2 separate regions of the Homo sapiens genome follow, and region 2 is linked to region 1. The links come from fine-mapping of genetic effects on plasma protein levels. A gene starts in region 1. The other region holds a variant in brackets. All regions are shown on one strand. Distances are from middle to middle. Region 1 holds the start of IL34 (interleukin 34). Region 2 overlaps IL34 (interleukin 34).

The links. PIP is the chance, under the fine-mapping model, that this variant and not a neighbour inherited with it causes the effect. The UK Biobank Pharma Proteomics Project read protein levels with antibody pairs (Olink). The fine-mapping took linkage between variants from a reference panel, not from the people measured, so its PIPs are less certain.
Region 2: its variant is fine-mapped to the plasma level of the IL34 protein (UK Biobank, PIP above 0.99). The variant lies in the coding sequence of IL34. If it changes the protein, the assay may bind it differently, which can mimic a change of level.

Annotation. Positions count from the first base shown.
Region 1 is chr16:70,642,595-70,650,924 of GRCh38, forward strand. IL34 (interleukin 34) reads left to right here and starts at 3,965. Exons shown (of 6, transcript NM_001393494.1): 1 at 3,965-4,381. The coding sequence starts at 4,354. RefSeq lists an enhancer at 7,197-7,697.
Region 2 is chr16:70,653,498-70,660,499 of GRCh38, forward strand. It overlaps IL34 (interleukin 34), which reads left to right. Exons shown (of 6, transcript NM_001393494.1): 2 at 1,041-1,174; 3 at 3,105-3,182; 4 at 3,463-3,624; 5 at 6,121-6,256; 6 at 6,500-7,002. The coding sequence ends at 6,690. Among named protein-coding and RNA genes, the nearest start is that of IL34, 10 kb to the left of the region's middle. The variant C/A (reference allele first, on the strand shown) is at 6,600.

The DNA.
Region 1 (8,330 bases):
CTGATTTCTTTTCTTATAAAGGCATTATCCCACCATAAGGACCCCATCCTTGTGACCTCATCCAAACCTAATTATCTCCCAAGGCCTCATCTCCAGGAACCACCACATTAGGGGTTACAACTTCAACACATGTATTTTGGAGAGACACAAACATTCAGTTCATAACATGCTACAAAATGAATGAACCCTGAAAACATGCTAAGTGAAAGAAGCCAGACATGAAAGGTCCCGTATTGCATAATCAATCCCATTTATATGAAATGTCCAGAATAGGCAAATCCATAGAGACAGAAAGAATATTAGTGGCTGCCAGGGGCTGGGAGGAAGAGGGAATAGGGGGTGACTGCTAATGAGTTCAGAGTTTATTTTGGGGGTGATGAAAATGTTCTGTAATTAAATAATGGTGACTGTTGCACAACTTAGTACACTAAAAACCCACAAAGTTGTACACTTTATTATTTATTTTTATTTATTTTTATTTATTTTTGAGACGGATCTCACTCTGTCACCCAGGCTGGAGTGCAGTGGGACTACCTCGGCTCACTGCAACCTCTGCCTCCCGGGTTCAAGTGATTCTCCTGCCTCAGCCTCCTGAGTAGCTGGGATTACAGGTGCGCACCACCGTGCCTGGCTAATCTTTTGTATGTTTAGTAGAGATAGGGTTTTGCCATATTGGCCAGGCTGGTCTCGAATCCCTGACCTCAGGTGATCCACCTGCCTTGGCCTCCCAAACTGCAGGGATGACAGGAGTGAGCCACTGCACCTGGCTGTTGCACACTTTATTTATTTATTTTGAGACAGGGTCTTGCTTTGTCACCCATGCTGGAGTGCAGTGGCGTGATCATGGTTCACTGCAGCCTTGACCTCCCTGGCTCAAGTGATCCTCCCATCTCAGCCTCCCAAGTAGCTGGGACCACAGGCCCGTGCCACTACACCCACCTAATTAAAAAAATTTTTGTTGGTAGATACGGGTTCTCACTATGTTGCCCGGGCTGGTCTCAAAGCCCTGGGCTGAAGCGATCCCCCGGCCTTGGCCTCCCAAGGTGCTGGGATTACAAGTGTGAGCCATCACACGCAGCCTGTACACTTTAAAATGGTAAATTTTATGGCATGCAAATTATATATTGATTTTTAAAAAGAAAAAAGACTTAAGATGCACATCAGAGATTTAAAAAATAACCAGGGAAAATTGAACGTGGATTCTATATGAAATCATATTAAAGAGTTATTAATTTGAGGGTTGTGTGATGACAATATTGTGATTATATATTTTAAAAATCCCTACATGCTGGTGAAATGGCATGTTTGAGATTTGCTTTAAAATATTCCTGGAAAAAAAAATTGGGGGATGAGTGAAGCTGGAATGACAGAAGAGTGATCATTTTTTTCTTTTGTTTTGAGACAGAATCTCGCTCTGTTGCCCCGACTGGAGGGCAGTGGAGCAATCTTGGCTCACTGCAACCTCCGCCTCCTGGGTTCCAGTGATTCTGCTGCCTCAGCCTCCTGAGTAGCTGGGATTACAGGCATGCACCACCACACCTGGCTAATTTTTGTATTTTTAGTAGAGACAGGGTTTCACCATGTTGGCCAGGCTGGTCTCAAAGTCCTGACCTTTTATGGACAACTCTGTGGAAATAACTTTTTTGTTTTTCTATTGGTATTTGAAGTTGTTTTTTCCCCTTCTCCTTGGAGTTTATTCTGCCTCAACTGATTCACCCGCCTCGGCCTCCCAAAGTGCTGGGATTACAGGTGTGAGACACTGCACCCAGCCAGATTGACAATTTTTGAATCTGAGTAACTGCTATATGGGGGTCTGTTATACTATTCTACCTTGTTTCAGTTTGTTTAGACAACTTCCACTATAAAGGAATGAATTTTTTGGGTAGATGGAAATGTTTTGTATCTTGATTATTATAGTAATTACACAGCTCTATAAATGTGCTAAAAACTTTTAGAAATGTATACTGAAAAGGGTAAAATGTAGTATATGTAAATTAGCCCTCAATAAACCTGAAAAAAATCCCCAAACTAATGACAACTAAATGTTCTAGATACGTTAGTGTTTGTAGTGATGCTGTAACAGCAGGGGAATTGCCAGGGTGAGGAGGAGGAGGAGGGGGAGGAGGAGGGGGAGGGGGAAGAGGAAGAGGAGGAGGGAGGAGGGAGGAAAAGGAGGAGGGAGGAGGGAGGAAAAGGAGGAGGGAGGAGGAATGAAAAGGAGGAAGGGAGGAGGAAGGAGGAAGAGGAAGGAGGGAAGAGGAGGAAGAGGAGGAAGTAGGAAGAGGAAGGAGGTGGAAGAGGAAGGAGGAAGAGGAGGGAGGAGAAGGAGGAGGAAGGAGGAAGAGGAGGAAGGAGGAAGAGGAGGAGGAAGGAGGAAGAGAAAGGGAGTAGGAGGAAGGAGGAAGAAGAGGAAGAGGAGGAAGGAGGAGAAGGAAAAAGGAAGGAGGACGAGGAAGGAGGAAGAGAAGGAAGGAGAAAGGAAGAGGGAAGAGTAGGAAGGAGGAGGGGGAAAGAGGAGGAAGAAGAGGGAGGAAGGAGGAAGACGAGGAAGGAGGAGGAGGAAGAGAAGGAGGAAGAGGAAGGAGGAAAAGGAGGAAGGACAAGGAAAAGAGGAGCAGCAGCAGGCAGCGACTGGGGCTGAGATTCAGGGTGACTGCATAAGGGATTAACTTGAACAACCCGTGTTCTCTCTATAAGGCCCTGCCTGCCTGCTGGGCACCTCTTAGGGTAAGGGCCAGCATTCTTTGGTGACACCATGGATCACACAATGAAGAAGATGCCCAAGTCATACCTGCTCTCCCCCGATGGTGTCACTCTGTAGCCATTTTCCCCCACCAGAGGGGAGACAGGGAGGAGGCGAGGGGATGGAAGAGAACTAAATCAGAGACGGAATTCCAGCCTGATCTGCAGAGCAGACACAATGGTCCAGACCTTGCAGAGTCCAGAGGGGCAGATGGGAGGACCACGCACACACGCTGAGCCCTGTGTGGTTGTCGAATTTTGGGAGCAGCCACCAGCCCACAGGGTTTGAATTCCTGTCACACTTCTTACAAGCCGTATGACCTTGGACAAGTGTCTTAACCTTTCTGGGCCTCAGTTTCCTCATTGATAAACTGAGATTTTGCACTTCCATGAGATTGTTGTGAGAGATTCAGTGAATGTAAAGACCTTAGTCCTGGCCGGGTGCGGTGGCTCACGCCTGTAATCCCAGCACTTTGGGAGGCCAAGACAGCAGATCACTTGAGTCCAGGAGTTTGAGACTAGCCTGGCCAACATGGTGAAACCCCATCTCTACTAAAAATACAAAAATTAGCCAGGCATGGTAGTGCACATCTGTAATCCCAGCTACTTGGGAGGCTGAAGCAGGAGAATTGCTTGAACCCTGGAGGTGGAGGCTGCAGTGAGCCAAAATCACGCCACTGCACTACAGCCTGGATGACAGAGTCTGAGACTCCGTCTCAAAAAAATTTTTTTTTTCTTAATTTTTTTTTTATTAATAGAACTGAGGTCTTACTATGCTGACCAGGCTGGTCTCGAACTCCTGGGCTCACGCAATCCTCCCACCTTGGCCTCCCAAAGTGCTGGGATTACAAGCATGAGCCATTGCGTCCGGCTTGTTTTCGGAGTGGGAGCTCGTCTGCTTTTTTAACCTGTCCTTTAGCCTGAGTCATTCATGGACTCTACCATGGCTCTCGATGTGTGAACTCAAACCACCTGTTCATTCCTTGGTCCTGCTTTTGTTCAGGCCCCAGGCTGCCAGCTGGTGTCATCATAACTCACTCATGGGCCAGGGCCGTTCGGACATCCTGAAGTCATTTCTCACGTGAGCCGTGTCCAGCTGCCAGGGCCGGGTGGTCCTGTGCAGGCCGTGGGTGCGGTGTGCGCTGTGGCTGATGGCTGAGTGGCAGCGCTGCTCTTACATAATCAGTTTCTCTCCTCCTTTCTCTTCCTAGAGCCAGATTTCACACTGAGCAGCTGCAGTCGGAGAAATCAGAGAAAGCGTCACCCAGCCCCAGATTCCGAGGGGCCTGCCAGGGACTCTCTCCTCCTGCTCCTTGGAAAGGAAGACCCCGAAAGACCCCCAAGCCACCGGCTCAGACCTGCTTCTGGGCTGCCATGGGACTTGCGGCCACCGCCCCCCGGCTGTCCTCCACGCTGCCGGGCAGATAAGGGCAGCTGCTGCCCTTGGGGCACCTGCTCACTCCCGCAGCCCAGCCACTCCTCCAGGGCCAGCCCTTCCCTGACTGAGTGACCACCTCTGCTGCCCCGAGGCCATGTAGGCCGTGCTTAGGCCTCTGTGGACACACTGCTGGGGACGGCGCCTGAGCTCTCAGGGGGACGAGGAACACCACCATGCCCCGGGGCTTCACCTGGCTGCGCTGTGAGTACTGGGGGGTCCCTAGGGACCTGCATTGGGAGGCCTTGGCCTAGATCCAGGATCTGCCGTAACCATAGCAACCAGGGCATTCTTGCTGGTGAGAAGTTGCGATGCTTCCCAGCCGGACTGCAGACACCCTCTGAGATTCCCACGGCCGCCGTCTGCCCTGTCTGCCGCTCACTTCGGGCTCCGACGGGCAAGCTGGGTGGGCAGTTCTGGCTGGGTGGGCATGGTCCTCAGGGTGGTCTTAGGTCGGGGCAGGCACTGGGGGTAGGTGGCAGCATCTCACCTTTCCAGGCTTGTGGGTGTTGGGGAGCCCCGGGCGGGCAGCAGCGGCCCAGTCCTGGGTATGGCCGGTGGAGGGGGGCAGGGGCTGGTGAAAGTGTCTAGGGACCCAAGACCCACGGCAGAAGAGCAGCCAGATGCCTGGAGAAGGCAGCCTGTTCCCCTCCAACCCTCCCTCCATAACAGAACAGAATTAAAAAGCAGAAAGATAACACTGTTGGTAAAAAGAAAAATAAGTTGAAATGAGGACAGAAAGGAAAAAAAGGATCTGGAAGCCTCTTATGCCTGCTGGCTGGGAGGCCAGACCAAGATCCCCTCAGTCTCCAAGATCCAGTTCAATTGACTCAAATTCAACACATTTTTCCGGTGCCTCCCACGTGCCCACTGCAGAGTCACTGCCATGACAACAAGGACCTTGCTGTCTCGTGCCTCTGTCTCCAACGCCTGGCACAGGGTTGAGTGCTCAGGAACTGTTGGAGGTTTGGGGTATGAGCCTGCGAGGGATTGAAAGAAGAGTTGGGTCCACCCTGGCCCTTGTGGAAATATACAACAAAGGGTTGGGACATTAAGGATGGGTGGAAGGACCCAGCTGGACCCAATGTTCTGGAAACCCCTAGGTCATGAGAAGCAGGGGTGCAGCATGGGGGAGGGGCTACTGGAAATGGTCTAGAAGGTGGGGTGGTGGTCACACAGGTAGACCTGGGGTCATGAGGCCCATGTTCCAGGAAGAGGGGCCAGTGTGAGCAAAGGTTTGGCGGTGGGATGGTGAGGCCAGGCTGGGAGCTGGTTTGGACCCGGCTGGCTGAGGCCTTGAGAGCCAAGCAAAGTGTGCCTCCCTCCCCATAGCAGGCAGCCCTGGAGGATTTGAGAGCCCGGCGGGGGTGGAATCGTGATTGGGAGTTCCTCTGCTCTTGAAGATCAGTCTGGTGGTGTTTGTAGGAGTTACTGCTGTCACCGTCTGTGCAGGAGGGAATGAGGGTCATTCTGGAGGTGGAGGTGCGAATGAAAGGCAAGGGATGCTGGGCTGGTGGCTCACGCCCGTGATCCCAGCACTGTGGGAGGCCAAGGCAGGAGGACGGCTTGAGGCCAGGAGTTTGAAACCAGGCTGGGCAGCATAGCGAGACTCCATCTCTAAAAAAAGGAAAATTAGCCAGGTGTGGTGGCATACATCTGTAATCCCAGCTACTCAGGAGGCTGAGGTGGGAGGATCACTTGAGCCCAGGAGGTTGAGGCTGCAGTAGCAAGGATCGCATCACTGCACTGCAGCCTGGGCAACAGGGTGAGACCCTGTCTTTAAAAAAAAAAAAAAAAAAAAAAAGGAGAAAAGAAAAAGAGAGAAAGAAAAGCAAGGGAGAGGGGAAAAAGCTCCAGGAGGGGTGGGTCTTAGGACCAGGCAAAGACTGGCTGGGGGATGAGGGAGAGGGAGAGCAGCAGATTGAGGTGGGGGCTGGTGCCCAGGGGCTGGGGTGCTGAGGAAGTTGGGCTGCCATAACCAATTAGAAAGCTTCGGGTGGCTTAGAGCAACAGGAATGTGTCGTCTCACAGTTCTGGAGACCGGAAGTGTGAGATCAGGGTGCCTGCAGGGCTGCGTTCCCTCTAAAGGTGCCGAGAAGGAGCCTCCCTTGCCTCTTCCAGCTCCTGGTGGCTCCTGGCTTCCTTGGCTTGTGGCCTAGTCACTCAGATCTCCCTTTGTCTTTGCGTGGCCTTTCCCTTTGTGTGTCTCTATGTCCTCTCCTCTTCTTCCTAGGACACTAGTCACTGGATTTAGGGAACTGCCTAAATCCAGGATGGCCTAATCTTGACATCCTTCATTTAATAATGCCTGTAAGTGGCACAGGACAGGCGAGCCCCCAAGGGGGCTTAGCCTGCGAGGGTTCTTGGCTTTCCCTAGGAGAGAATTCAAGGCAAGCTGGTGGTAGAAGAAAACAGCTTTACTGAAGAGATGTTATAGCTCTGTGCCAGCTCCTGCAGAGCAGGGCTGTGCCAGAGGAAGCGTACTGAGGAGCAGCTCGGGGCCTTTTGCAGTCATATTTATACCCACCTTTAATTGCATGCAGATTAAGGGGCAGTTTATGCAGACATTTCTAGGGAAGGGGTAGTAACTTTTGGGACATTGGGTCATTGCTATGGAAAGCGGTGGTAACTCCCAGGCGTTGCCATGGCAATGGTAAACTGACATGGCACACTGCTGAGCATGTCTTTTGGAATGCTGCTTCTGCCCCGTCCACCCCTGTTTTCACTAGTCCTCAGTTTGGTCCAGTGTCAGGGCTCTGCCTCTGGAGTCGGTCCTACCTCCTACTTCACAAAGACCCCATTTCCAAACAAGGTCACACTCGGGTTCGGGTGAATGTGGATTTGGAGGAGATGCTATTTAACCCACTGCACAGGTTCAGATTTGGTCCCCGGGGCTGGGGGTGACAAGCCTCACTTGTCACTGCACATAGGGTCAACCCAGGGCCAGGGAACCAGGAAGGGAGTACCGTACTCACACAGATCTTTCTTAAGCCTCCTCTCTGTCTTGCAGGTTGTTTTATTATTTTATTTTTATTTTTATTTTTTGAGACGGAGTCTCACTCTGTCACCCAGGCTGGAGTGCTGCGGCACGATCTCAGCTCACTGCATCCTCTGCCTCTTGGGTTCAGATGATTCTTGTGTCTCAGCCTCCCGAGTAGCTGGGACTACAGGCACCTGCCACTGCGCCTGGCTAATTTTTGTATTTTTAGTAGCGATGGGGTTTCACCATGTTGGCCAGACTGGTCTTGAACTCCTGACCTCAGGTGATCCGCCCACCTCGGCCTTCCAAAGTGCTGGGATTACAGGTGTGAGCCTCCGTGCCCAGCCTGTGTTGTGGGTTCTTACCTCTGGGCTAAGACAAGGGCAGGGTGGGTCTCCTGACCAAGGTCAGGGGTGGCACTGGCTGTGGGGTTCCTGGTGTGCAGAGCATGTGGGGGACAGTGGCCTTGAGGTTGGGGCTGTGCTGTCCCTGCCTGGTCCCTGTTTGTTAACCTGTTTCTCTGGGTGGGTGGAGGCAGCAAAAAAAGAAACTTGCCCTTAGCAATGATGTTTGGGCTGCACTCAGAGGAAGGCTGCCCAGTTGGGGGAGAGGCAGATCATCTGTGGACAGGGTTTCCAGGGCAGCTGTGTGCCCACCGTGTCAGGCTGGGAGGCTCAGTGTCACTCCAAGGCACAGTCCCTGCCTTGAGGCCACAGCTGCCGGGTCCCCAGGGCCCCAGAACGGGACACAGAGAAGGGCAGGTGCTGTAGGGTTGGGAGGTGAAGTAGACGGCCAATGGTGATGGCCACACAGGAAAAAAGACCCAGTGTGGACAGAGGTACTGATTTTTTTAAAGAAAAGCTGAAATTTTGAATTGTTGTGTGAAATCCTTGTGGACCAGAGGTGGCTCTCGGGACACCAGCTTGCAACTGTTGCTCTAGGTCTGTGGTTCCAGACCCCCAGCCACAGCTTTACCTGGGACCTTGTTAGAAAGGTAGACTCTCTGCATCCTAGACTGGTTGAGCAGAGACTCTGGGGCAGGCAGGACAACCTGTGCCTTAACGAGCTCTGCAAGGGATGACAATGTCTGCTCCCATTTCTACTGCTTGAGGCGAATCCCCAAATGCACATGTGAAGTTCTCAGCACGCTGGGCTGTGCAGTGTTTAACTGCG
Region 2 (7,002 bases), 10 kb after region 1:
AGGCAAGTCTGGCCAACATGGCGATACCAGGTCTCTACAAAAAATACAAAAATTAGCAGGCGTAGTAGCATGCAACTGTAGTCCTAGCTACTCTGGAGGCTGAGGCAGAAGGATCGCTTGAGTCTGGGAGTTCTAGGATGCAATGAGCCATGATCCCACTACTGCACTCCAGCCAGGGTGACCAAAAAAAAGAAAAAGAAAAATTATATCTGATTGTTTTAATGTGAATTTATTTATCTAGTTAGTGAGTCTGATATTTTGGGTAGTTGCTGGCCTACTTCTGTTTTATTCTTTCTGCTCTGATGGACTTAACCTTTATTCATATTTGTTGCGAATTCTCTCCTTTTTTTCTGTTCAGTCACATGGAAATCGTATAGGCTGTTTTTGGAGTCACAGTGACCCCCAGTGGCAAAGGATGGTAATGTTTCAGCGGCTCGTTTGTTGCAGGAAGAGAGGCAGCCAAGTATGAGATCTGCTTAACGTCCTAGAATGACCAGACTGGAAGGCGCTACAGACCCGCTGGCATAGTTAGCTGGGAGGGACACTAAGATCAGATAGAGCAGGAAGGAAAGTGGTGTGGGGCGTGGGTGACTGAAGAGTCATTTTATCAAGTTGAAACCAGAATCCAGGATGATTCGATCTCCTGAATGCCGGGCTGGAAAACCCAGCAACGAGCTTTGAAAACATATCACCCGGACACCAGGGGCAGAGGCTGTTCTGGGCGGGAGGTTGTGCCTGCCCCACGGAGCGACAGAAGCGGGGAGACCAGACGTCGACCCTGAGGCGTGCCTCCTGGGGGGCTCCAGTGGCCGGCATGGGGTGGGTGTGGACTCTCTGCACTGCTAGTGCCTGCCTGACCTTGCTGTTCTGGAGCCAGACCCCAGGGAAAGCATTCCAGATCCCGTGCCCCCCACCACACCTTTCCCATTGGTGCTTGTCTCCTATGCAAATGGATGATGGTTGTGCTCGGCTTTGCGTGTTGTGGACGGCGTGGATGAGATGGAGGGTGCTCATGTGCTCTTGTCGGGTGTGGTCCACAGATCTTGGGATCTTCCTTGGCGTGGCCTTGGGGAATGAGCCTTTGGAGATGTGGCCCTTGACGCAGAATGAGGAGTGCACTGTCACGGGTTTTCTGCGGGACAAGCTGCAGTACAGGAGCCGACTTCAGTACATGGTAACCACGTGGGCACCAGCTGTGTCCCTGTCCCCGCGTCCCGGGGTTCACCTGGCATAGGCCTCTGGACATTCAGAGCCCTTCTTAGGACCTGTGTCAGCCCTGAGCCGACCATGGCCTGTTTCTCTGCCTTTCTCCGAAACCTACCCATGCACCTGGTCTGCACTTACTGACCCTCCTCCTGCCATCTCCTGGGGCCTCCACCCCTCCTCCTCGATCTCACTTTAATCCCACCTCCATGATGGCAGTCACCATATGACTCAGGAATGGACACCTGGAGCTCTTTGACAAACCCCAGGCACTTATTAGCCAGGGAGCTAAAGACCTAGAAATCGGAATATTTGGTTCTTTTTGCAGAGTGGAGATGTCTGTGTGGCTCTATGTATCTTTTTTTTTTTTTGAGACGGAGTCTTGGTCTGTCACCAGGCTGGAGTGCAGTGGCTCAATCTTGGCTCACTGCAACCTCCACCTCCCCGGTTCCAGTGATTCTCCTGCCTCAGCCTCCCGAGTAGCTGGGACTACAGGTGCGCGCCACCATGCCCAGCTAATTTTTGCAATTTTAGTAGAGACGGGGTTTCACCATGTTAGTCAGGATGGTCTCCATCTCTTGACCTCGTGATCCGCCTGCCTCAGCCTCCCAAAGTGCTGGGATTACAGGCGTGAGCCACTGCGCCCGGCCCTTTTTTTTTCTTTTTAATTTTTTAACTTTTCCTAAAAATCCTTTTCTTTTCTTTTGAGACAGGGTCTTGCTCTGTTGCCCAGGCTGGAGTGCAGTGGATAATTTCAGCTCACTGCAACCTCCACCTCCAAGGCTCAAATGATCCTCCCACCTCAGCCTCCCAAGTAGCTGGGACTACAGGCATGCACCACCATGCCCAGCTAATTAAAACTTTTTTTTTGAGTAGAGACAGGGGTTCACCATGTTGCCCAGGGTGGTCTTGAACTCCTGGGCTCAAGCAATATGCCCACCTTGGCCTCCCAAAGTGCTGGGATTATAGGTGTGAGCCACCATGCCTGACCAATGTATCTTTTTAAATTAATTAATTTAATTTTTAGAGACAGGGTGTCACTCTGTTGTCCAGGCTGAAGTGTAGTGGCGGGATCATAGCTCAGTGTAAACTTAAACTCCTGTGCTCAAGTGACTGTCTCTCCTCAGCCTCCCAAGGTGCTGGGATTACAGGCGTGAGCCACTGCACCTGGCTTGTGTCTTTTTTATTTTAACAGCTTTACTGAGATATAATTTACATATTTATATATAAAAGACATAATTTACTCATTTAAAGTGCACAACTCAAAGAGTTTTTAGTTCACAGAGTTGTGCAACCATCACCATCATAGGTTTTAGAACATTCTCACCCACAAAATAACATGTTTTTCTTGAAGTAACGTGTCCTCACTCTTGAGCCTGAAATTTCTGCCTTAACAGGAACTGTGTATTTTGTTTCACCCACCCTGAGTCCCAGAGGAAAGTGAAGTGTTTTTATCCCAGCTGGGAGCCAGGCACACCTCTCTGCACAGGACCACCTCTGCCGTCAAAGGTCTGGGCCCTGAGTTCTCTCCTCCTACATCAAAATTCATCTGGAGGCCGGGCATGGTGGCTCATACCTATAACCCCAGCACTTTGAGGGGCTTGAGCCCGGGATTCAAGACCAGCCTGGGCAACAAGAAGAAACCCCATCTCTACAAAAAATAAAAAAATCATCTGGGCGTGGTGGCACACACCTGTAGTCCCACCTACTTGGGAGGCTGAGGTGGAAGGATTGCTTGAGCCTGGGAGGTCAAGGCTTCCGTGAGCCATGATGCTGCCCCTGCACTCCATACTGGGTGACAGAGTGAGACTAACTGTTAAAAAAAACATCATTTGGGAGGTTGGGGAGCCTGCTGGTCATTTCTACTTCTGGCCTCATAGTTTGTTCTTGTGCCTCTCCAGAAACACTACTTCCCCATCAACTACAAGATCAGTGTGCCTTACGAGGGGGTGTTCAGAATCGCCAACGTCACCAGGCTGGTGAGAATCCCTTCCTGGGCTGGGGGGACCCTGCCTCCTGCGACATCCGGTGGGCCCCAGCCTCAGAGGCGCGCTGGGACTGGCAGGTGGTGCTGCTGGCCTGGGGCCTCTCCTCAGCCCCGAGAGCAGGCTGGCCCTTGGCCCAGGCACATGTTTGTCCACTGTCCACAGCGGACGGCCCGCGTCTGCTCCCTATGCAGGGGCAAGTCCCTGGTGAGGGAGTGGTCAGAGCCCAGAGGCCCATGTCTCCCGAGTTGCAGTGACTTCCCTGTTTCCGCAGCAGAGGGCCCAGGTGAGCGAGCGGGAGCTGCGGTATCTGTGGGTCTTGGTGAGCCTCAGTGCCACTGAGTCGGTGCAGGACGTGCTGCTCGAGGGCCACCCATCCTGGAAGTACCTGCAGGAGGTGGAGACGCTGCTGCTGAATGTCCAGCAGGGCCTCACGGTGAGTTGTGTGGAGGAGTGGCAGGTGGGGTGTGTGTGTGTGCACACGTGTGTACATGTGTGTGAGGTGTGGCCAAAGGCTAGTGAGGGAAAGGGTGAATACACGGAAAGATGGGCACAAGCAGAGGGACGTGGGAGAAGTGGGGGAGGGGTGCAGGAAAAGAGGCCTGTGGAAGGAAGAGGCAGCCGTGGTGGTCATGAGAGCCGGGCTCGGGGTGCAGGCGATGCCTCTGAGACTCTGTTCTAGGCTCTGCCTCTCTCCCTCTGGATCCTGGGCAAGTCATCGTACCCTCTTTGTTTCTGCAACACGAGGGTCCTGGAGGTGGGGTAGGGGGAGAGGGGAAGAATGGATGGAGCACAGGGAATGTTTAGGGCAGTAAAACATGCTGCAGGCCGGGCGCGGCGGCTCATGCCTGTAATCCCAGCACTTTGGGAGGCCGAGGTCAGGAGTTTGAGACCAGCCTGGCCAAATGGTGAAACCCCGTCTCTACTAAAAATACAAAAATAAGCCAGTCCTGGTGGTGGGCACCTGTTATCCCAGCTACTCAGGAGGCTGAGGCAGGAGAATCGCTTGAACCTGGGAGGCAGAGGTTGCAGTGAGCTGAGATTGCACCATTGCACTCCAGCTTGGGCAACAAGAACGAAAAACTCCATCTCAAAACAAAAAACAAAAAACTATGCTGTATAATGCATTCATGTTGTATACATGACATCATGCATTTGTCACAACCCACAGAACTGTACAACAGAGAGTGTGAGCCCTAATGTAAATTATGGACTTTAGTTAATTAAAAAAAGAGGTCCCCCATCCCTGACCCGCTCAGAGAAATTGATCTGAGGCCTCAGGGATATTATCCTCTAAAATGCCTGAGTTGTAGTAAAAAAGGAAGGTGGCGAGATGACCCATGCAGGCCGTGTGTGCGGTGGGACCTCTCCCCGTCTCCACCAGACCTCCTCAGGACTCTGGTGCACACCTGTCCCTGGGATCCACCTGCTGCCCTGCCCAGCCAGCTGCTGACAAGGCCCAGCTTGTCGGGAGAACATCCCAGGCCAACTGTGAGCTTCCGACGGTGAAAGGGCTTAGGGACTAGCACCTGTTTTGCAGCTGCCTGGAGCTTTCCTGGAACCAGACTGGTGGGGAGGCTGTCAATTCCTACAAAGTCAGGAGACTCCTTGATCTGCTTGGTGGCTCTTTTTCCTGTTTATTTCATTTTATTTCTTTTTTATTGTTTTAGAGATGGGGGTCTCGCTATGTTGCCCAGGCTGGTCTTGAACCCCTGGCCTCAAGTGATCTTTCTGCCTCAGCCTCCCAAAGTCCTGGGATTACAGGACTGGGATTACATCCTGCCTGGCCTCTGTGGTGGCTTTTTTTGTTTTTTTGAGGCGGAGTCTCACTGTGTCGCCCAGGTGCATTGCAGTGGGGCAATCTTGGCTCACTGCAACCTCCGTCTCCCAGGTTCAAGCAATTCTCCTGCCTCAGCCTCCCAAGTAGCTGGGATTATAGATGCCTGCCACCACACCTGTATTTTTAGTAGAGACGGGGTTCTGCCATGTTGGTTAGGCTGGTCTTGAACTCCTGGCCTCAAGTGATATGCCTCCCTCAGCCTCCCAAAGTGCTGGGATTACAGGTTGAACCACCATTCCTGGCCGTCTCAGTCTTTTCATGGCCTTCTGCCCTGTTTCCATGTCTGTCACCTTTCTCTTACAAGGACATCAGGCATTGGATTTAGGGCCTACCTGAAATCCAGGATGATGTCCTTCTAAGATCCTGAACTTAATTACCTCTGCAAAGAACCTATTTCCAAATAGGGTCACATTCACGGGTACCAAGGGGTAGGACCAAGACAGCTTTTTGGGGGAGGAGAGGGACAATTTGGCCCAGGACATGTTGCCTTGTTGTCACCCCCTTCCAGAAGATCACCCCCCACGTTTCCCATGATGCTTTCTACAGTGGCCCTGACCTCCTGTTCAGGGACTTGATTCCCTTGGTGCCACGGTGCACCCCACATGACCCTGTTGTTGCATATCGTGGAGAGAAAGCACCCCAGCTTGAAGCTGGACACCCTGCCCTGTGTATGTGACTTAAGCCTCAGTGTCTCTGTGAGGACCTTCTCTTGTTCCTTGGAGTTGATGGAGATGTCTGCTTCTTGAGGGACAGTTTTCCCCAGGTCAGGGGGTCCTCACGCAGTGGTGGGTGGCCGTGCCTGGGTGCAGTTTGCCCCACTTTCCTCACTGTCCTGGTCTACGCCCTTTACTCATTTTTCAAGGATGGAAAAGCGAAGCCTCTGAGTTGTACATGGGTGAGTGGTGGCATCTGGGACCCTCCCCATGCCCACAGGAAGAAGATGGTGAGAAATAGCTATCCAGGCTCATGGTCACAGGAAGTCTGGTCCTTCTTCCGGGGTTTGGGCAGCTCCAGGTGACTGGACAGCCCTCACGGCTCTCCTGGGGTGCGGCCCCATCTCGCCACCGCTCCTGACTGTTTCCTCCTTTCCAGGATGTGGAGGTCAGCCCCAAGGTGGAATCCGTGTTGTCCCTCTTGAATGCCCCAGGGCCAAACCTGAAGCTGGTGCGGCCCAAAGCCCTGCTGGACAACTGCTTCCGGGTCATGGAGCTGCTGTACTGCTCCTGCTGTAAGGAGCTCTCAGGGGATGGCGCCTGGGGGTGGGAGGCCAGGCATCTGGGCCCACCCAGGCCAGCTGGCAGAGCTGGCGTCCTCCCGGGCATATCCTCTGCTCCCCGGGGCTACAAGCCATTTCTGGAAGCCAGGATGGGCCCTGGGTAGAGTGGGGGACAAGCACATGCGGCTTGGCTTAGTGGGGAGGGTGGTCTTGAACACTGCTGCAGTCTTTTTTTTTTTCCCCTATCTCTTGCAGGTAAACAAAGCTCCGTCCTAAACTGGCAGGACTGTGAGGTGCCAAGTCCTCAGTCTTGCAGCCCAGAGCCCTCATTGCAGTATGCGGCCACCCAGCTGTA[C/A]CCTCCGCCCCCGTGGTCCCCCAGCTCCCCGCCTCACTCCACGGGCTCGGTGAGGCCGGTCAGGGCACAGGGCGAGGGCCTCTTGCCCTGAGCACCCTGGATGGTGACTGCGGATAGGGGCAGCCAGACCAGCTCCCACAGGAGTTCAACTGGGTCTGAGACTTCAAGGGGTGGTGGTGGGAGCCCCCCTTGGGAGAGGACCCCTGGGAAGGGTGTTTTTCCTTTGAGGGGGATTCTGTGCCACAGCAGGGCTCAGCTTCCTGCCTTCCATAGCTGTCATGGCCTCACCTGGAGCGGAGGGGACCTGGGGACCTGAAGGTGGATGGGGACACAGCTCCTGGCTTCTCCTGGTGCTGCCCTCACTGTCCCCCCGCCTAAAGGGGGTACTGAGCCTCCTGTGGCC